Regions from separate parts of the Homo sapiens genome. Here region 1 is linked to region 2. Evidence: fine-mapped expression QTL. A gene starts in region 2. The other region holds a variant in brackets. All regions are shown on one strand. Distances are from middle to middle.

What was found.
Region 1: its variant is fine-mapped to the expression of ALOX15B in lung (GTEx, PIP 0.98).

The regions. Positions count from the first base shown.
Region 1 is chr17:8,064,339-8,074,105 of GRCh38, reverse strand. It overlaps ALOX12B (arachidonate 12-lipoxygenase, 12R type), which reads left to right. Exons shown (of 15, transcript NM_001139.3): 13 at 349-449; 14 at 788-958; 15 at 1,156-1,470. The coding sequence ends at 1,335. It also overlaps the pseudogene ALOXE3P1. Among named protein-coding and RNA genes, the nearest start is that of ALOX12B, 18 kb to the left of the region's middle. RefSeq lists enhancers at 514-1,047, 4,628-5,129, 9,258-9,759. The variant G/A (reference allele first, on the strand shown) is at 3,008.
Region 2 is chr17:8,032,644-8,042,516 of GRCh38, reverse strand. It overlaps ALOX15B (arachidonate 15-lipoxygenase type B), which reads right to left and starts at 3,458. Exons shown (of 14, transcript NM_001141.3): 1 at 3,215-3,458; 2 at 2,912-3,131; 3 at 2,534-2,615; 4 at 26-148. The coding sequence starts at 3,361. It also overlaps the pseudogene LOC124904131.

The DNA.
Region 1 (9,767 bases), 32 kb before region 2:
CCGAAGGAACCCAGGAAAGCCTCCTGCCTCTCCCAACATCCCCAGGTCTGGGACCGGAGCGGCATCCCCAGGGAAACTGGAAGAGAGATCTGAGGGCCACTGGTTAGACAGGGGCCAGGAGCAGCCCTGGAGGACTTCTGGCCAAGTCCTCCGTCCCCAGCCTTATGATCTGGGTGAGGGGAGATGGGGTTGCTGCCATAGGAGGGTCACGCAGGCAGGATGAGGGTACGGATGCGGCAGCTTGAAGCTTTTGCAAAACGGTGAGAGCGGGGCATGGTGGCGCCCTCTGCCGGGCAGCCAGTACCAGGGCACGACTGATGTCGCCTGGGCTTTTCCCCCGCCGGTCAGGCTTCCCTAGGTGCTTGCGAACCGTGCCTGAGCTGATCCGATATGTCACTATAGTCATCTACACCTGCTCTGCCAAGCACGCTGCTGTCAACACAGGCCAGGTACCGGTGGTCTCACCAACCCAGGCCCAGCCCGAGGCTCAGACCTTCTAAATTTCGTCCATGCCCCAACCTCAAACCCAGCCTCAGCCATAATCCCTGGTCCAGCCTCAACTTGTTCCAGCTTCAACTCCAGTCCCAACGGAAACCGAGCCTCAGCCCCAACTCTCAGCCCCAGCCCCACACCCAGCCCCACCCCCAGTCTAACCAACCCAGCCCAGCCTCAGCGCCAAGGGCGGGGAGTCCATCTCAGCGACTGGAGGGCGGGTGGTCAGCACCTGGTGGAAGGAAACTCCTGAGGTACTCTTCCACCCAGACCCGCGCCTCTATCCCACCTCCAGATGGAGTTCACCGCCTGGATGCCCAACTTCCCAGCGTCCATGCGGAATCCACCGATTCAGACTAAGGGGCTGACCACTCTGGAGACCTTCATGGACACGTTGCCGGATGTGAAGACCACGTGCATCACGCTGCTGGTGCTCTGGACCCTCAGCCGAGAGCCTGACGACAGGGTGCGAGACGGGATGGGGGACTCTGAGCACAGGGAGGGGACCAGAAGCCGGGGATGGGGGAGGATAACTAGCGGCGTCAAGAGGGGAGCAGGGAGTGAGAGGCCACTGAAACCAAAGGGTGGAGGGGCCAGGGCCACCGGCAGGAGGAGGGGGTGCTGGCCGGCCCTGGTCCCAGCTGTCGAGCTCTCTGCCCGCAGCGGCCCCTGGGACACTTCCCGGACATTCACTTCGTGGAGGAGGCCCCGCGGAGGAGCATAGAGGCGTTCCGCCAGCGCCTGAACCAGATCTCACACGACATCCGCCAGCGCAACAAGTGCCTTCCCATCCCCTACTACTACCTGGACCCGGTGCTGATTGAGAACAGCATTTCTATTTAGGAGCGCGCTTCCCGTCTCTCCTCTCCCCATTCTGTGCCCTACTATTTTCAACAAAACAAAACAAACAAGCAAAAAACACAAAAACCTCAGAGACCAAAACACCAAACAAACAAAAAAACAAAAAACCTTCCTTTCCCTGGGTCTGGCTGTGAATGCGCGCGGCAAGTTACTGGGGCGCTGGCGGCAGGGCTGGCGCCGCGGGGTGCAGGTGCAGGCTGTGCCGCGCGCTCTCACCGCGATTCCGTTCTCTGCGGCCGCGGGGTTCAGGTAGGAGTAGGGCAGCGCCAGGCCCCGGCTCCACTCCAGGACGTCCGCCGAGATCTGGGCCAGGCGGCTCTGCCGCGGGGCCTTCTCGGTGAAGTGCTCCTCTGGGTAGGTGTCCAGGAGGGGAGACCGAAAGGCTGGGACCTTGGCCGGCTGCATTTTCAGCCCACAACGATTCTGTTCCAGCTTAAGTCTCCCTCCCAGGGGACTTAGTCCACCCAAGCCCAGCCCACGTAGGGGTCCTGGAGCACTCCAGACCCATCCAACTTGAAACATAAAACACCCGCCCACCTAGACAAAAGACTGCGGGCCACAAGAAACCCAGACCACCCCAAGCCCGGCTCACTCTGAAGCCCAGACCACTCTAAACTCCCCCTACTAGGAATCCACAGCACCCTAAACCACACCCACCAGCAACCTAGTGGCCACAAGCCCTGCCACCTAGGAGCCCAGCCTGCTAAGCTAAGTGCATCCTCCTAGTAGCCATTGTCCCCAGGATCCCTTCCTCAATGTTCCCACTCTCTAGAAGCTGAGACCCCAGCCATCCCCACCTGGGCCTTGCTTATGGTGGCCTTGGTTCCATTGCTGACCCCCCACAGGAGCAGCAGGGGGTGGTGTGTGGCATCGACCGCAGGGAGTGAGGCTGCTTGTTCTGTCTGGCCCTTGGCGGTGGGCAGGGCAAGCCACAGGATGATAGGAATATTGGGGATCCAGTCACTGAATTCAGACCGACCCCCGCAAACTCAGTACAGAGCTTCCAGTGCTGCTAGGGCTGCTCCTCCCGTGACCCTGCTTGTCCCCCTGGTCTGGCAGTGGCTCACCTGGCCGCTGTTGATGGCAGCATGTTGGGCTGAGCAGGTGACGATGATCGTCGTGAAACACCGGATGAGCCCAGCACAGTGGCCCAGGGTGGAGGGGACCCCCTAGATGGGAGTAGGGTAGAGAGAACAGAGCTGAGACCCAAGAGGCTGCTGCCCTGGGGCAGTGGACGCCACCTCTGAGAGCATTTGGCTTGGAAAACCCTCCTGGAAGATCTCCCTGACCCAGGCCTGGAGCTCTGAGTCCCTGCTCACTGCCGTATCGTCCGGGTAGTAGATGTTAACAATATTGGTCCCAAAGCTGGGGGGTCGGGAATACACGGTGACTAACAGCCGGGAGCCAACACTGCACAGGGGTATGGGTTGGAAGGGGCCACTGAGACCTGCTGCCCACAAAGGGGGAAACTGAGGCCAAGGAAGGAAAACGGCCAACCACAGAGTGAACTGCAGAGCCGAGATCAAACCGGGAGGCTGTGCTCTTCACCATGCCATGCAAACAGAGGCCCGAAGGCCATGATTGATCTGCAGATGTGTTTTGATCAGCTGGCAAGGTTTTTCTGTTTGTTTTTCAAGTTGAATCACTTGCCAAC[G/A]TTTAAATATTAGAAGATGTCTGGTTTCTGCTGAAAAATCAGAAGATCTGGTCACAGTGATAGCTGGGTCACCACTGTCCCCATCAGACAAACATGAGTTTCCCACTGGCCACGGTCCCTGCCCACTCTTCTTCCTTAGCTTTTCTCTGCTCACTGGTCCTGCAGGCATTTGGATTCCAACCCACAGGGAAGGATGAGACACCAGGTCCATCTGCCTCAGGACCGGCTGATTGGGTTCATCTCATCCACTGGTTCCCAAAGGGCCCTCCATCCCCAGCCATAGTAGGATGTGCAGACCCCTGCTGAGGAAGGAGCTCCTGCTGTGGATGTTCATATAGGGGGAGTCCCTGAGGTCTTCAAGGGGGAGGTGGGACATGAGTTGGGCTTGAAGCAGGGGCAGAATTTGAATTGGGAGAAAGGGAGAAATTAGGGTGCCTCGTCTCCCTAGGCCCAGTGTGTGCTGAGGTGGAAGAATGGAAGTAGGGGCAGATTTCAGAGGGGCTGAGCTGGCAGGGAATGCAGCATTGCATGTGGCGAGCCACTGGGCACCACTGGAGGCTAATGGGCAGCGGCACCGCCATCAATCTCGGTGCTGGAGGGAGGCCATTATGCAGGCTGGTGGCAGGAGCTGGGAACCCGTGGGAGGCCAGATATTAAGAGGATCTGGCCATTGGGGTGGAGGCCACAGCTATACCCCAAGGCAGTCTCCTATGAGGAAGATTTCAACGGAAAAACCTGGAGACACAGTGACTTTATCTATGGGGTGAAAAATAATCTTTTTTTTTTTTTTTTGAGACCGAGTTTTGCTCTTGTTGCCCAGGCTGGAGTGCAATGGCACGATCTTGCTCACTGCAACCTCCGCCTCCTGGGTTCAAGTGATTCTCCTGCTTCAGCCTCCCCAGCAGCTGGGATTACAGGCGCCCACCACTACACCCAGCTAACTTTCGTATTTTTAGTAGAGATGGGGTTTTGCCATGTAGGCCAGGCTGGTCTCGAACTCCTGACTTCAAGTGATCCGCCCACCTCAGCCTCCCAAAGTGCTGGGATTACAGGTGTGAGCCGCCGCGCCCGGCATAATAATCTTAATAGCTAATCTCCGAGAGCACTTTCTGTGCACTGGGGTTTGTTCTTAGGGTTTTGGATTGAATAAGAATAATAAGCTATACCATAGGTGCTCTTATTACCCCATTGTCAGATGAGGAAACAGGCACAGAGAGGTTAAATAACTTCCCAACACAGCTGGGAAGGATCAAGAGTAAACAGGAAGGGCTTGGAGACAGCAGTGTGTTTGGGAAGGAGGCTGGGGGAAGGTTGAATAAACCAACAGGGGTCTAGCCGAGGGTGAGAGGGTTGGAGCCCTCAGGCCCCAGGGGAGTGTCACCTCTCTATGGCTGCCCAGATCTGGAGTGTAGTAGCGGGCGAGGTCCTGGACCTTGAAGTCAGCCAGCTGGTGGGACAGGTAGAGGGAGTGGTAGCTGGCAGCTGCCAGCCCTTTGGTGATCAGCTCCAGGCAGCCCATCTGTCCCAACAATGTTGACTGTAATGAGCAGAGAGCCCACTCCTGCTGCTAGGAGGGGCTCTGGACCAAATCTCAGGCCTCCCCAGGCCCTCTGTGCTCACCCCAAGATCCCAGGCCTCCAGGGCCTTGACCTGGTGGATGAGCTTTCCTGGTACAAAGAGCCCAGTGCGGGCTGGATGTTGATGTGGAAGGTGCAGAAGAAAGGGGAAGCCGGAGTCAGAGGTCAGATCAGGCAGCCCCGGGTCTCCCACAGCTGTGGGCACTGAGAGGAGGGCTCCTCCCTGCCTTGAAAATGGGTGGCTCATGGGCAGCTGCCACAGCATGGACAAAGCAAAAGCTCCACCACAAAGTGGGTTTGAAGTAGATGAGTGACCGTCTTGTGCAACAGGAACTTTCAGGGTCACACCCAGGTCTTGGCCAGGAACCAGTCTTCAGCTGGGGTCACTGGGCAGGAAGATGGGGCTGTCTAGGCTGGGTGTCTGAGTGAGCTGGAGTGGGGGCACAGGAGAGGGCAGGCATTGGGCAGAAACTGGGGAAGGGCAGCCCATCACCACGTCCATGGGGCCAGAATAAGGGAGGAGACCACCCCTCATATTGTCTTATGCCCAATTTCTGCCTCCAAAGAAAGAAGAAGTAAAAACTAAGGCAGAAATGAAATCCACAGGCAGGCAGCCCTGCGCCACACCCCGGGCCTGGTAGTTAAAGATCAACCCCTAATCTAATCGGTTATGTTATCTGTAGATTACAGACATTGTATAGAAAAGCACTGTGAAAATCCCTGTCCTGTTCTGTTCCGTTCTAATTGCCAGTGCATGCAGCCCCCAGTCACATACCCCCTGCTTGCTCAATTGATCACGACCCTCTCAAGCAGACCCCCTTAGAGTTGTAAGCCCTTAAGAGGGACAGGAATTGCTCACTCTGGGAGCTCGGTTTTTGAGACGCGAGTCTTGCCGATGGTCCTGGCTGAATAAAGCCCTTCCTTCTTTAACTTGATGTCTGAGGGGTTTTGTCTGCGGCTCGTCCTGCTACAAAATCACACGACTTTTGACCAGCTGTGTGAACTTGGGAAAGTTTATTAACCTCTCTGTGATTCAGTTTCCTCATTAGTAAGACAAGGTTGATGAGAATAATCTCCTTGAGAGGTGAAGTGACCCAAGGCATCGTGTTGGCTGACTTCCCTGTACCAGTCCAGTCATCCAGAGCCCCAGTTGTGTGGGGCAGACTGGAAGGATGGGAAGGGACGGTGTGGACACCTCCCGAATGGGTTATGGTTTTAACTATTAGGAACACGGTTGAACTGCCAAAGGTGCGTGACTTAGTACAATCGATTCTGACACCCTGTCAAGGGGCAATTTGTTCTCTTGAGTATCATAAACTTTCTATCAAGATGGAAATCAAAGAGGACAAAACAGAAAGACAAACTTGAGAGGGGCTGAGTAGGATTGGAGAGGTGATGTCACCAGGCACAGTGGCATTGGGAGGAGGCAACCTTTCAGTCATCCCGAGGATGTAATAGACTTCCCCTACCCCACCCACCAGCCCACCGAGGCCCTGCCTGGCTGACCAGAATGACAAGGGATAGCAAGGGCCTGTTGCCGTTGGGACGCTGGTGCAGCAGGATCAGGGGTGCAGTCATGAACTAGGGCCTCCCATGAATGATGCTGGGGTAGAGGCCTGAGAGGATGGCATGGTCCACCAGGTACAGAGAGCCCCTTTAGAGGAGGAGTGGAGGAGGAGGAGGGCTGAGCAGGCTTGGGTGAGGAAGGGGGAGTTATTATGAACCTGGGAGTATTTCACTTAAAGGAACTTCATTCTCTGGAGCCAGTGGGGTGTTCCAACTCAGAGCCACTTTGTGGTTCCAGAGAAAGAAGCCCCTCCCCTCTTCCCCCACCCAAGTATTGAAGGTGACTCTACTGTGGCCAGGCCCAAGCATCAGTGAGAGACAGTGAGAGAAGCGCGCCCCGCTGGAGGTCAGCACGAAATGCACCCTCCTGGGGTCGCAGCACACCCCATCCCAGTAGCCCAGGGAGGGGAGAGCAGCAGCTCTGGGGGGCACTCAGATTAGCTGCAGAGCATCCTCGGAAACCATGGCAACCAACGCATCACTATAGTTTCTGTGCTGGGAGGGCCTGTCAATGCATGGCTCCTGGCAAAGTAGCAGGAGAGAGCACATTCCTCACTCAGCCCTGCCCCTCAGCCCTCACCATCTCAGAACAATGCCCCTCCCTCCACTGGCGCCCGCTCAGCCTGCAGACTGGTCCCAGGGTCCAGCGCAGGGACCATCATGGCATCAGTGACCAGAAAATTCTTTGGGAGTCAGTGACAGCAGTGGATCAGGATGGAGTTGAGGTCATTCAGAAACTAGGAGGTGAAGGAGGCGAAAAAGGTGTCCTCATCCTCCTTCTAGTCTGAAATGCATACTCTGCAGAGGGTAGGCGTGGGGAGAGTCACCCTGGTCCTCTGCCTGCAGCATGGCCACCACTGTCAGACCCATCTCCAACTTCCCAGCATAGCCACTTCCTGATGCTGATGGCTGGGCTGGGCTTCCCTCCTCTCTAGCACAACGGGTTGGATGACTTTACTTTTCCAAGTGGTTTTCTTAGACAACAAAGGATCGCAGGTTTGGTTTCTGCCTGAGGAGTCATCTGAACTCCCTTGGCCCCACCCGTTTTGAGGGAAGCCTAACATGCTCTGTGATGTGCACTAAGACCTCACCTAGGATAAGTTGAATTTGAGAAAACTGGAATACTAAAGAATGCTGGATACCAGAACGGCCCGTCCTTCCGGGCTTCCGCTCAGAGAGGCCCTTTTGATTCCCTGCCAAAACTCACCAGTCCCGGGTCCCATTCTCCTGCTACTTTGTCACAAGGCAGTGTAGATGATTTGTTAAACCAGAGTGATCATTTAATAAGAGGTTGCATTGCTTTGGGGCGTGGCACTGGTGCTAGGGTTTCTGAACCAAGAGTTTGACCTGTATAGTTTAAATGCATCGTGCACCCAGCGGCAACAAGGATATTGGAGAGTGAGCACTACTGAATCTTCCAGCTTGGTTTGCTTGTTTGTTTATTTATTTATTTATTTATTCGGAGTTTCGCTCTTTCGCCCAGGCTGGAGTGAAGTGGCGCAATCTCGGCTCACTACAACCTCTGCCTCCCAGGTTCAAGCAACTCTCCTGCGTCAGACTCCTGAGTAGCTGAGATTACAGGTGCCTGCCACCATGCGTGGCTAATTTTTGTATTTTTAGTAGAGACGGGGTTTTGCTGTGTTGGTCAGGCTGGTCTCAAACTCCTGACCTCAGGTGATCCACCTGCCTCGGCCTCCTAAGCTTAGTTTCCTTCCTTCCTTCCTTTCTTTCTTCCTTTCTTTCTATAGTCTCTCTCTGTCGCCCAGGCTGGAGTGCAGTGGTGCGATCTCCGCTCACTGCTAGCTTTGCCTCCTGGGTTCATGCCATTCTCCTGCCTCAGCCTCCAGAGTAGCTGGGACTACAGGCACCCGCCACCACCCTGGCTAATTTTGTTTTTGTATTTTTAGTAGAGACAGGGTTTCACCATGTTAGCCAGGATGGTCTCGATCTCCTGACCTTGTGATCCTCCTCACCCTGCCTGGCCTGCCTCGGCCTTCCAAAGTGCTGGGATTACAGGCGGGAGCCACCATGCCCCACCCAAGCTTGATTTATTTTCAAGTCTGCATGCCTAGGCCCCCAAGCAAGCAGGCACAATTTTGGAAGGAAAAAGTCTTTCTGCTTCAGCCTTTTTTTCCCCTTAAATTGCTGAGGATATTCAAGGACAGGTGTTCCCAGTGTTGGGGACAGTTTGAAGAAGTAGGTATGAAGTGGGGTGTAGATCAGTACACAGACCCCAGTCCCCTGACTGAATTTCAGCTGCCTCAGGAGCTTGGCTTCCTGTGGGACCGAAGTCACGGGCATCCAGAGAGGGCAGAAAAGTAGCATTGGTGCTTGCCTTGGCAAAGAAGCAAAGTTGTTAGAACTTACTTTGGCCATTCTTTTGGAAGCCCTGATAGGTGAGAATGGCTGGGCAAACATGGGCAATTACCCCACGATGAGAGAGGACATGTTGGGTGGGGCATCCTCCCAGGGTCCTTCAGCCCTGACCTTCTTCCCACACAGAAGCCACTGCTGGGCTGGGCGTGGTGGCTCACCCCTGTAATCCCAACACTTTGGGAGGCTGAGGTGGGCAGATCAGGAGGTCAGGAGTTCGAGACCAGCCTGACCAACATGGTGAAACCCCGTCTCTCCTAAAAATACAAAAATTAGCCAGGTGTGGTAGTGGGTGCCTGTAGTCCCAGCTACTCAGGAGGCTGAGGCAGGAGAATCGCTTGAACCCAGGAGGCAGAGGTTGCAGTGAGCCGAGCACAATGGCAGGACGTGCACATTCTCAGGGCAGAAGTGAGCTTCTTCAAAGGACAGGTAGGAACTGGTGGCAGCACAGAACAAGTCCTGTGATTTCCAGAATGTTCTAATTTTGGCTTTCTGGTTCTCAGTCCCACAAGGTTGCCACCAAGGACCCTCTTGCCCTGCTGCAGCCACCTCGCCCTTCCTCCCTCACCCTGCGGACCTGACACCTTGGTGTGGGGAAGATGAAGGTACACTGATCCCTTTTCCAGACCCCTGGCTGCCCAGCAGTCCTGCAGTTTCAGGGCAGTGTTCCTGCAGAAACAAAGACAGAATGGCCCAGGCTGTGGAGGGGATCCAGGTGCAGAAAGGGAGATCTTAGCCCCCAGCCTCTCCCCTCCTCTCCCCAGACCTGGGGTGGGAGCATCTTTGAACCAGGGTGTTGGCCAGCCCCTGGCCTCTGCGTCTGCTTTGCCTCTTCCCCCAGGGATGGAGAAGCCCTGCCCACTCCACCTTCCCCCCACGGCAGACCCTGCTTCAGCACCTGCTTCAGCACCTGAGGTCGTCCCCATCCGTTCACTGAGCCCCAACTCAACAGCCCAGGCCAGAGGGGACCAAAGAGTAAAGTCGGTGGGAAGAGGAAAGAGAAGACATAGCTACACCCACCACCCCCAATACTGGGCCACGATGTTCTGCCCCCAACCCCTCTGCTTCACAGGCCTGTTCTCTTTCCACCAGCTTCTCCCTCTTCCACTCACTGATCCACCACTCAACTTCCCCACCTAATCCTCTTGTCAGAGCCGGTGCTCCCCTCCCCCACTTATCTTCCATCCTCCCCTCCCTGAGTATGGTTCCTCCCAACCATCCCACCTCCTCCTTCCCGTGCCCCT
Region 2 (9,873 bases):
GGCAGGGAAGGGTGGGCATCCTCACGCAGAGCCAGCCTGTAGATAAAAGTTGGCATTCTTGGCTGTGGAGTATTTGATATTGAGCTCCAAGTCTTCCACTGTCTTTTCATCCAGGCAGTGAGGCCAACCTGGGTTGTAAGCCTTCCACCTGGAGGGTAGAGAGGGAAGGTGGTCAGCAAGAGGCCTCAGGGAGACTCTTTGCTAGGGCAGATGGAGTGGCAGTCCCCTTGGGGGGCCTGGTCACAGCCAGACCCCTTCAGCCAAGAGGGCCCTCCTGGGAGCTGCCCTTCCATTCTACCCAAGGAGGCTGCAAGGGAGCTGCCATTTTCCCACAGTGAGATGGCTCCCCTGGTCAAGGGTGATTGGTCCAGAGTTGAGCACCTGACTAGAGCTGGGCCAATCAGAGTCCTTTCCAGGGAATTTGCCATTGGGGCTGAGCCAGAGAGGTGGTCTCTCTCTGGATATGTAGATTATAGCAGTAAACACAGACTGTTAGTTATGGCCATTTTCCACTGGGTGGACAATTCCTGCCTGTGTTTCTGTAAGTGCCTCTGTGTCTGGCCGACAAACTTTTTTTCTGCCTGCTAGTTGGAGTTAGCTTTTGTTCTTGCAACTATAGAAGTCCCGACTAACACAGACGCATCTTGTAGAGGCGAGACTATCCTGGGACAGGGGCTGCGCAGAAGGTTTCAGTTGCCTTTGGTAGGTGTCCCATAGAGAGGCACTTCAGCCTTCATAGTTTAGGGGGAGCCGCCCGAGGCATCTCTAAATTCTATTCTCAAACAAGCAACACAGCCAAAGACCTTCCAGGGAAATGGTAAATTCATGTATCTGCAAACTTGATGACCCCTAGCCAGTCATGCTCTCACTCATTCATTCTTTGATTCATTCAAAACTTGCTTTTGGGTTTGAGCTTTCAACTTCAAAGAAAAATTTGCAATTAAAGTACACTGCCACCAGGTGGTGGCCAAACCCTTCCTCTCAGACTTGAATCCCTCTCACATAGAGATCTTGGTTAAATGCAGATTCTGATTTCTAACAAGCTCCCAGGCAATGCTGTTGCAATGGATCTGAGACCTCACTGTACGTTTTATAAGAGCCTAGAGTGTTGGAACAGAGTGAACTGAAAGACAGGAACAACAGCAAGAGCACACAGTTGTGCAAGACTTAGCAGCTGACCACCTACATTCTTAACCATTTTCTCATTTGTTCCTCCTAACCCAAACGAGATTGGTATTCTTAGTTTCTTTTACAGAAGAAAATAAGAATTGAAGAGATGAAAAAATTGGTCTAAGATCTCACAGCTCGTTTTGGCAGGGCCTAGGCTGACTCTGGGTCTCCATGGACACAGTAGATCTCAATGTCTATTCCCTCTCTTGGGGCTGTTGCTGCCAGATTTGGTGCAATGGTTTCCTTAGGGGTGGAATTCATGACACATGGAGAATCACCAGGAACCAAATGAGCCTGTGGCTGCTCTGATCCCACAGACCAGGAGCAAAAGCCTGCAGCCCAGGCTTTAGATAGCAGATGAGTTGGCCGGATCAAGATCTTTTGAAAATCTGTTTCTGAATGCAGTTCCTGGCTTTGTGCCAAGGGAATCCTCACTAGCGGCCCCAACTCCTCTGTTATCTCCAAGTCCCAGTTTTCCCCTGTGATCTCCAATGCTGAGCCCAGAGCACAGAGAGAGCCCCCATCTCACCCCTTGCTAGCCCTGGAGGGTGAGTTTCCTGGGGCTTGAAGGGCGTGTTTCTGGCTCTACTCAGATTTCTGGGAGGACACAACAAGCCGATGCATGAAAAAGTCCCAGGGCAAGGAAGACACCAGCAAAGGTAAGGCATTTAAAGCAGTTTCTTTCTCTTTCTTTTCTTTCTTTCTTTCTTTCTTTCTTTCTTTCTTTCTTTCTTTCTTTCTTTCTCTCTCTTTCTTTCTCTCTTTCCTTCCTTTTCCTTCCTTCCTTTTTTTTTTTCTTTTTTTGAGATGGAGTTTTGCTCTGTCCCCCATGCTGGAGTGCAATGGCGTGATCGGCTCACTGCAACCTCCACCACCCGGGTTCAAGCTATTCTTCTGCCTCAGCCTCCCATGTAGCTGAGAATACAGGTGCCCGCCACCCTACCCAGCTGATTTTTGTATTTTTAGTAGAGATGGGGTTTCGCCCTGTTGGCCAGGCTGGTCTCGAACTCCCGACCTCCAGTGATCCGCCTCCCTCAGCCTCCCAAAGTGCTGAGATTACAGGTGTGAGCCACCACGGCACCTGGCCCTAGAGCAGTGTTTTTCAAACATCAGTGGCCACCAGAGTCATCTGGAAGGCTTGTCAAAACAAAAATTCCCACTCTACACCCTCAGTGTCGTAGTAGGTTGGAGGTGGCCTGAGAATTTGCATTTCTAATACGTTCCTGTAGACGCTGCTGATCCCAGGAGCAGCTTTGATAGGAGAGGTGGAGGCAGGGGCTTTTAATCTCTGTCATGACCAGGACACTCAAGCTGCCCCTCATCGTTTGGGCACACCCTCCCCCATCAGTAACCCCCTCCTCACTGGTACATCTCCTGCCGGGCCTGAAGCTCCTCCTGGCGCTGTTGCTGGAGCACAGGGTGGTGGTCTGCCCAGGACACCTTGGCTGTGGGAGAAGGGGAGTAGGTTGGGGTGGGGAGAGAAACTCACCATCACTACCACCAGCCACACAGTCTCCACGATTGCCACCCTCTACCAGGTCCCCTCCTCCCATAAGTACAGTTTCTCCTACACCAGGCTGCTACCTCCCGCTCCCCAAGGCTCCGCCATTCCCTCTCCTCTGCCCGCTACTCTGTGGCCACACCAGCTCACCTCTCCATTTCACCTGCCCTTCTCCCCAACCCCCAGTCCCCTACCCCTTCCTGTGCTCCCCCTGCAGCCCCAGCCCGGCCCGCCCCTCACCTGTACCCTCCTGCAGCACCAGGGTCCCCGCCCCCTCCAGCCACTGGTAGCAGGGGAAGAGGAGGTGGCCGCCCCGCGGCGGTGTCAGCTGGAACCAGCGGCAGAACCAGGCATCCGGGGCCAGGGGCCCCAGCAGGGGCAGCACTGGGGGCGCCTTGTGCACGCGCAGCAGCAGCACTCGGCCTACGTCCTCCGGGAGCGTCACCTGGAAGTCCTCCTCCTGAGGGGAGGTTAAGTATGCGTCAGGCCGGACCCTCCTGCTCGCCCCCTTCACCTCCACCCCATCCACTCCCACGCACTCACAGCGCCCGCAGTGAACTCCTTGCCGAGATTGTCCAGGGGCAGTGGGGGGCTCTCTCCCCGGGTCCCCACGATGCTGACAGACACTTTGTCCCATGTGCCAGCCCCGAAGGCTTCTCCGGTGGACACCCTGACCCTGAACTCGGCCATGCTGCCAGCCTAAGTCCAGCTCTCTACGGCGCACAGGGCTGCAGAGCGGGGCTCCCCCCTGGGACACGCCTGGTTATTGCCCCTGGTTATTGCCACTGACTCCAAGCCCAGTGGACTCCTCTAAAAAGCACGTCCGTTTCAGGGCGGGGAGGGGCGGGGCGGAGAGGCTGGAACACGCAACTAAAGTGGGGGTGGGCGGGGGATTGGCAGCGCTGGGAACAGGAGGGACTAAGAATACCCTGAGGTTTGGGGAACGGGGCCTTTCAGTGGTGGTGCCAGGCCAGAGAGCCTAGAGTTGGGACCCAGTTGGGGTGGGGGTAGATTTGTGCCCACCACGTCTGTTTGTTTTCCTTCTTAGCCTTAGAAGTCTATGCAAAAATATCACCCCATTTCCCACAACTCTTCTTGGGCCTGCGTTCATTATTTTTAAAATTTATTTATTTATTTATTTTTGAGACAGAGGCTTGCTCTGTCGCCAGGCTGGAGTGCAGCAGCATGATCTCGGCTCACTGGAACCTCCTCCTCCTGGGTTCAAGTGATTCTCCTACCTCAGCCTCCCCAGTAGCTGAGACAACAGGCGAGTGCCACCATGCCCAGCTAATTTTTGTATTTTAGTAGAGACGGGGTTCCACCATGTAGGCCAGGATGATCTTGATCTCTTGACCTCATGATCCGCCTGCCTCGGCCTCCCAAAGTGCTGGGATTACAGGCGTGAGCCACCGCGCCCAGCCTACATTCATTATTTTATTTCATTCAATAATTAATGTTCAGAACTACCTCTGTGCCAGGTGCTATGCTCACTGCTATTGATAAAGGCCCAGGCAAGACCTAGTGCTTGCTCTCATGGAGATTAAAAATCAAGTGTGAGGCCAGGCACAGTTGCTGGCCAACATGGTGAAACCCCATCTCTACTAAAAATACAAAAAAATTAGCCAAGCGTGGTGGCGGGCGCCTGTAGTCCCAGCTACTCAGGAGGCTGAGGCAGGAGAATAGCTTGAACCCGGAAGGCGGAGGTTTCAGTGAGGTGAAGTTGTGCCATTGCACTCCAGCATGGGCGACAGAGCAAATCTCGGTCTAAAAAAAAAAAATCAAGTGTGAGAGAAAATAAGTAAACCAACACATAATTTCAGATGATAATAAGTGCAATGAAGGAAATGAAACAGACTAATGTGAAGGAGTGAGAAGCAGAGGTGGGAAGGGAGGCGTTCAGAGCCTCAGAGGAGGTGAAAGGATCTGTCTGGGGAACAGAGTTTTGTGCAGAGGAAACTGTTCCTGAAGAGGCCCTGTGGTTAGGAAAAGCTTGGCTTGTTGGAGGAGGGAAAGGCAAGAGTGCAGTGAGGGAGGGATTTGGGGGAGAGATGCCAAGGGGAAGTTATGGATTTGGGCTTTGGGGGAATAACATAACAGATTTGGGGTTTTCGGTCTGGAGATGCTAAGTTTGAGATGGCCATTAGACATCCAAGTGGAGAACCCACGTCTGGGCATAGAGCTCAGGACTGCAGGTGTGCATCTTTGAGTCACAAGCACACAGGTACATCTATACCACAGGCTGGTGGAGATCACTAGGCAGAGAATATCCTATAAGTAGAGAAGAGAAGAGGCACAAGCTGTGCCCTAAGGTCCTCTGATATTTGGAAGTCATGCAAAGGAGTGGAAGCAGCAAAGTTCAGTCAATGAGGTAGGAGGAGAACGATGCCGGCAGACACTTTGTCCTCTTGTGCCTGTCACAGTGTTTCATGAAAGCCAACTGAAGTGAGAGTGACTTATCATGTATATTCCATATATACCATGGAATACTATACAGCCATGAAAAAGAATGAGATCATGGTCAGGCATGGTGTCTCACACCTGTAATCTCAGAACTTTGGGAGGCTGAGGCAGGCAGATCACGAGGTCAGGAGTTCGAGACCAGCCTGACCAACATGGTGAAACCCCATCTCTACTAAAAATACAAAAATTAGCTGGGTGTGGTGGTGACTGCCTGTAATTCCGGCTACTCAGGAGGCTGAGGCAGGAGAATCATTTGAACCCGGGAGGCAGAGGTTGCAATTCCAGCTACTCAGGAGGCTGAGGCAGGAGAATCACTTGAACCCGGGAGGCGGAGGTTGCAGTGAGCCAAGATCGTGCCACTGCACTCCAGCCCTGGTGATAGAGCGAGACTTCGTCTCAAAAAAAAAAAAAAAAAGAATGAGATCATGTCCTTTGTGGGAACATGGATAGAGCTGGAGGCCATTATCCTTAGCAAACTAACACAGGAACAGAAAACCAATATTGCACGCTCCAGTTCTTACTTTCAATTCTTTAGGATATATACCTAGTAGTAGAATTGCTGGATCATATGGTAACAGTATGTTTAATTTTTTTTTTTTTTTTTTGAGACCGAGTCTCGCTCTGTTGCCCAGGCTGGAGTGCAGTGGCGCAATCTGTGCTCACTGCAACCTCCGCCTCCTGGGTTTAAGCGATTCTCCTGCCTCAGCCTGCTAAGTAGCTGGGATTACAGGCGCCTGCCACCATGCCCAGCTAATTTTTGTATTTTTAATAGAGATGGGGTTTCACCACATTGACCAGGCTGATCTTGAACTCCTGACCTCAGGCGATCCACCCACCTCGGCCTCCCAAAGTGCTGGGATTACAGACGTGAGCCACTGTGCCCAGCCTGTATATTTAATTTTTTGAGGAACCGCCATACTATTTTCCACAATGGACGCAACATTTTACATTCCCACCAGCAATGCAGGAGGAGGGTTCCAGTTTGTCCACCAATGCTTGTTATTTTCTGTTTATTTGATAATAGCCATTTTAATGGGCCTGAACTGGTATCTCATTGTGGTTTTGATCTGCATTTCCCTAATAATCGGTAATGTTAAGCATCTTTCCATTTGCTTGTTGGCCATTTATGTATCACCTTTGGAGCAATGTCTGTTAATGTCCTTTGCCCAAACCATCCGTTCTTAATTCTTATCCATTGCTAGGTTGAATTTTAGATTTATCATGTGAGTCGTATGCAAGACCCACACGTTTTCAAATACGTCAAATGTTTTTATTTATAGATCACTCTTTTTTTTCCTAAAGTAGTATCTATAGTACATTTCTTTATTCATATATCTTCACATGGTCAAGTTTTCTTTCATACATCCAAAATGTAGTGTGATGTTTTCTTATTCACCAAATGTTAGCTCTACTTGTAGTCTGGTTCCAAACTAATCAGCCTGCTTTTAAATTTTAAGACATTTGTTGAAAAAAAAATTTTTTTTCTTTTTTCTTTTTTTTGAGATGGAGTCTCGCTCTGTCGCCCAGGCTGGAGTGCAGTGGCGCAATCTTGGCTCACTGCAAGCTCCGCCTCCCGGGTTCACGCCGTTCTCCTGCCTCAGCCTCCTGAGTAGCTGGGACTACAGGCTCCCACCACCACGCCTGGCTAATTTTTTGTACTTTTAGTAGAGACAGGGTTTCACCGTGTTAGCCAGGATGGTCTCCATCTCTGACCTTGTGATCCGCCTGCCTTGGCCTCCCAAGACATTTGTTGAAAGTTTATAGGATCAAACCAAACTCAAGTGGTATCATTTTTAAACATTGGATTGTACATTATTGTAAAGGTACCAGTAACCATTATTATTAAGAATAAGTTAGTGATTATAGCTCCTTTTGTAATAATTAGATCACTCTCATAATACAAATCAATATTGCAAGTATCCATGTGCCAAAATCTAGTGAGTCTAGGAAAAAGTGAAAATGCTTTATTGTCTCTTCATCCTAAAATACATCCTTGGATACTTAGAAATTTCAGTGAATCTATTTTAAAGGAAACTTTGTGTCACTATTGTAAATCGAAAATTCGTTTCATTTCCCATAATAGAAGGTAAGAATAAAGGAGAATGCAATGAAAACCAAACAGTGTAATTCAATTCCAGGTAGATTCTTTTGCCTGTGGCCAGCTCCCTGTTCCAGGAGATTATCTAACGCTAAAGGGGTGCTAAAAACATATCAATACCAAATTGACACTTTCTCCCTGAAAAGGGGAATTGATTTGCCGTTTTATCTCAATTAAACCTGTGATCTTGCACCTCCAAGGACTTGTCCTGGAGTAGCGTTGCTCAACGTGTGGCAAGCAGATGGCTGGCATCAGATGTCTTTGAATGCTTATTAAAAATGTCAGTTCCGGGTTGGATGTGACTCCTGCCTATAATCCCAGCACTTTGGGAGGCAGAGGTGGGTGGATCACTTGAGGTCAGGGGTTTGAGACCAGCCTGGCCAACATGGCAAAACACCATCTTTACTAAAAATACAAAAATTAGCTGGGCCTGTTGGTGGGTGCCCATGGTCCCAGCTACTCAGGAGACTGAGGCAGGAGAATCGCTTGAACCCAGGACGCAGAGATTCCAGTGAGCCGAGATCATGCCACTGCACTCCAGCCTGGGCAGCAGAATGAGCAGTGTGAGACTCTGTCTCAAAAGAAAAAAAAAATGCCAGTTCCCCATCCCTGCCTCACACCAAGGAGGCAGACTCCCCAGAAGATTAGCCAGGGAATCTACATTTTACAGTAGGGTGATTCTTCTTTAGAACCACTGCCCTTGATCCTTTTGTACTTGGTAAGCATGATGATTGGGTTTTTATGCTTATATATGAGACATGCTTGTCTCAAATCTTGTTACAGCACATTACCCTTCCTACTTAAAAGGTTAAAAAAAAAAAGAACCATCGCCCTTGATCATGTAAATATTTTATTACATTCTGTCCTACAGCTCATGATGATCTCAGACAGGTTGAACAGGAGTTGTCACCCAACCCCTCAAGATATAGATGAAGAAATCTGAGCCCTGACTGGGAAAGGGGTTTACTTGAGATTTTAAAATGTCCATTAAGTCATGTGCACCCCATCTTTGAGCCCCTGAATGATTTGGCTCCTGCTTGCCTTCTTTTTTTTTTGAGATGGAGTCTTGCTCCGTTGCCCAGGCTGGAGTGCAATGGCACCAACTCGGCTCACTGCAACCTCTGCCTCCTGGGTTCAAGCCATTCTCCTGCCTCAGCCTCCTGAGTAGCTGGGATTACAGGTGCCCATCACCACGCTCGGCTAATTTTTTTGTATTTTTAGTAGAGATGAGGTTTTGCCACATTGGCCAGGCTGGTCTCAAACTCCTGACCTCAGGTGGTCCACCTGCCTCAGCCTCCTAAAGTGCTGGGATTACAGGCGTGAGCCACTGCACCGGGCCTTTGTTTCCCTCCCTCCCTCCCTCCCTTCCTTCCTCTTTCCTGTCTTCTCTTTTACTTTCTTTTAAATTCGAATATTCTCATCAAAGCTGTAGATGCATATGATTTAAAGAGTCAAATAGTTCTACAAATCTCTCACCAACAACTGCTTCCTGCTCCACTTCTGTCCTTTCCCTCTCATGAAAGACAATAACTTTCACTACTTTCTTTGATAATCTAAACCACTGCATCTCAAAATAGCATGCATGATTGTTTATTTAATGATTTTTCAGCTTTAGGCAAATATTGGCTTCCCCCTGTGGAAGATAGGATTTTTTTTTTTTTTTTTTGAGACGGAGTTTCGCTCTTGTTACCCAGGCTGGAGTGCAATGGCATGATCTTGGCTCACCGCAACCTCCGCCTCCTAGGTTCAAGTGATTTTCCAGCCTCAGCCTCCTGAGTAGCTGGGATAACAGGCATGCGCCACCACGCCCGGCTAATTTTTGTATTTTTAGTAGAGACAGGGTTTCACCATGTTGGTCAGGCTGGTCTCGAACTCCTGACCTTGTGATCTGCCCGCCTCGGCCTCCCAAAGTGCTGGGATTACAGGCGTGAGCCACCGTGCCTGGCCTGGAAGATAGGATTTCATTTTCTTTCCTAGTCTTGCTCCCATTTGCAAACGTTTCTCACCCCCATCCTTCTAGTACAGTTTTATTAGGACCGAGCAAACGACACTCAGTGTTTACGTGATTTTTGTTATGGATATGCTATTCATAGGGGACATTTATAGTATACTGTAATTATTTTTTTCTTCCATACAAAACCTTTTGTTGTTTCTCTATATAATAATGATTATATTATTGGTCTGGTTTTCTATATATTTTTCATTAGTTTAATCCGAAACTTCACCACTTGTTCAGATTGCCTCTCTATCAGTTCAGACACATCCATTTCCCAGTCGGTTCCACTGTGTGAAGGAGTCTCTCCAGTGTGTCCTGTTGGCTTCTTTCCTGGTCCTCCTGAGCTCTTGCTTCACCACCATCCTTTGTCTTCCTTTTACCTCTCTGCTGTGCTGGAGATTTGTTTCCCGGATCTCATGTTTTGTTATTTCCTGGCTTATTTCTTGGGCTAAGCAAGAAAGGGTATGTGGGAGGGAGGAGAAGTTTTTAAGACTTTGCATGTCTGGAAATGCCTATAATCTATCTATACACTTAAATAGTAGCTCTGAAATCAATTTTTTTTTTTTTTTGGTTCGGAATTTTGAAAGCACTGCTCCAATGGTAGCAGTGTTGCTATAAAGAAGCCTAGAGCTATTTGCATTCCTGATT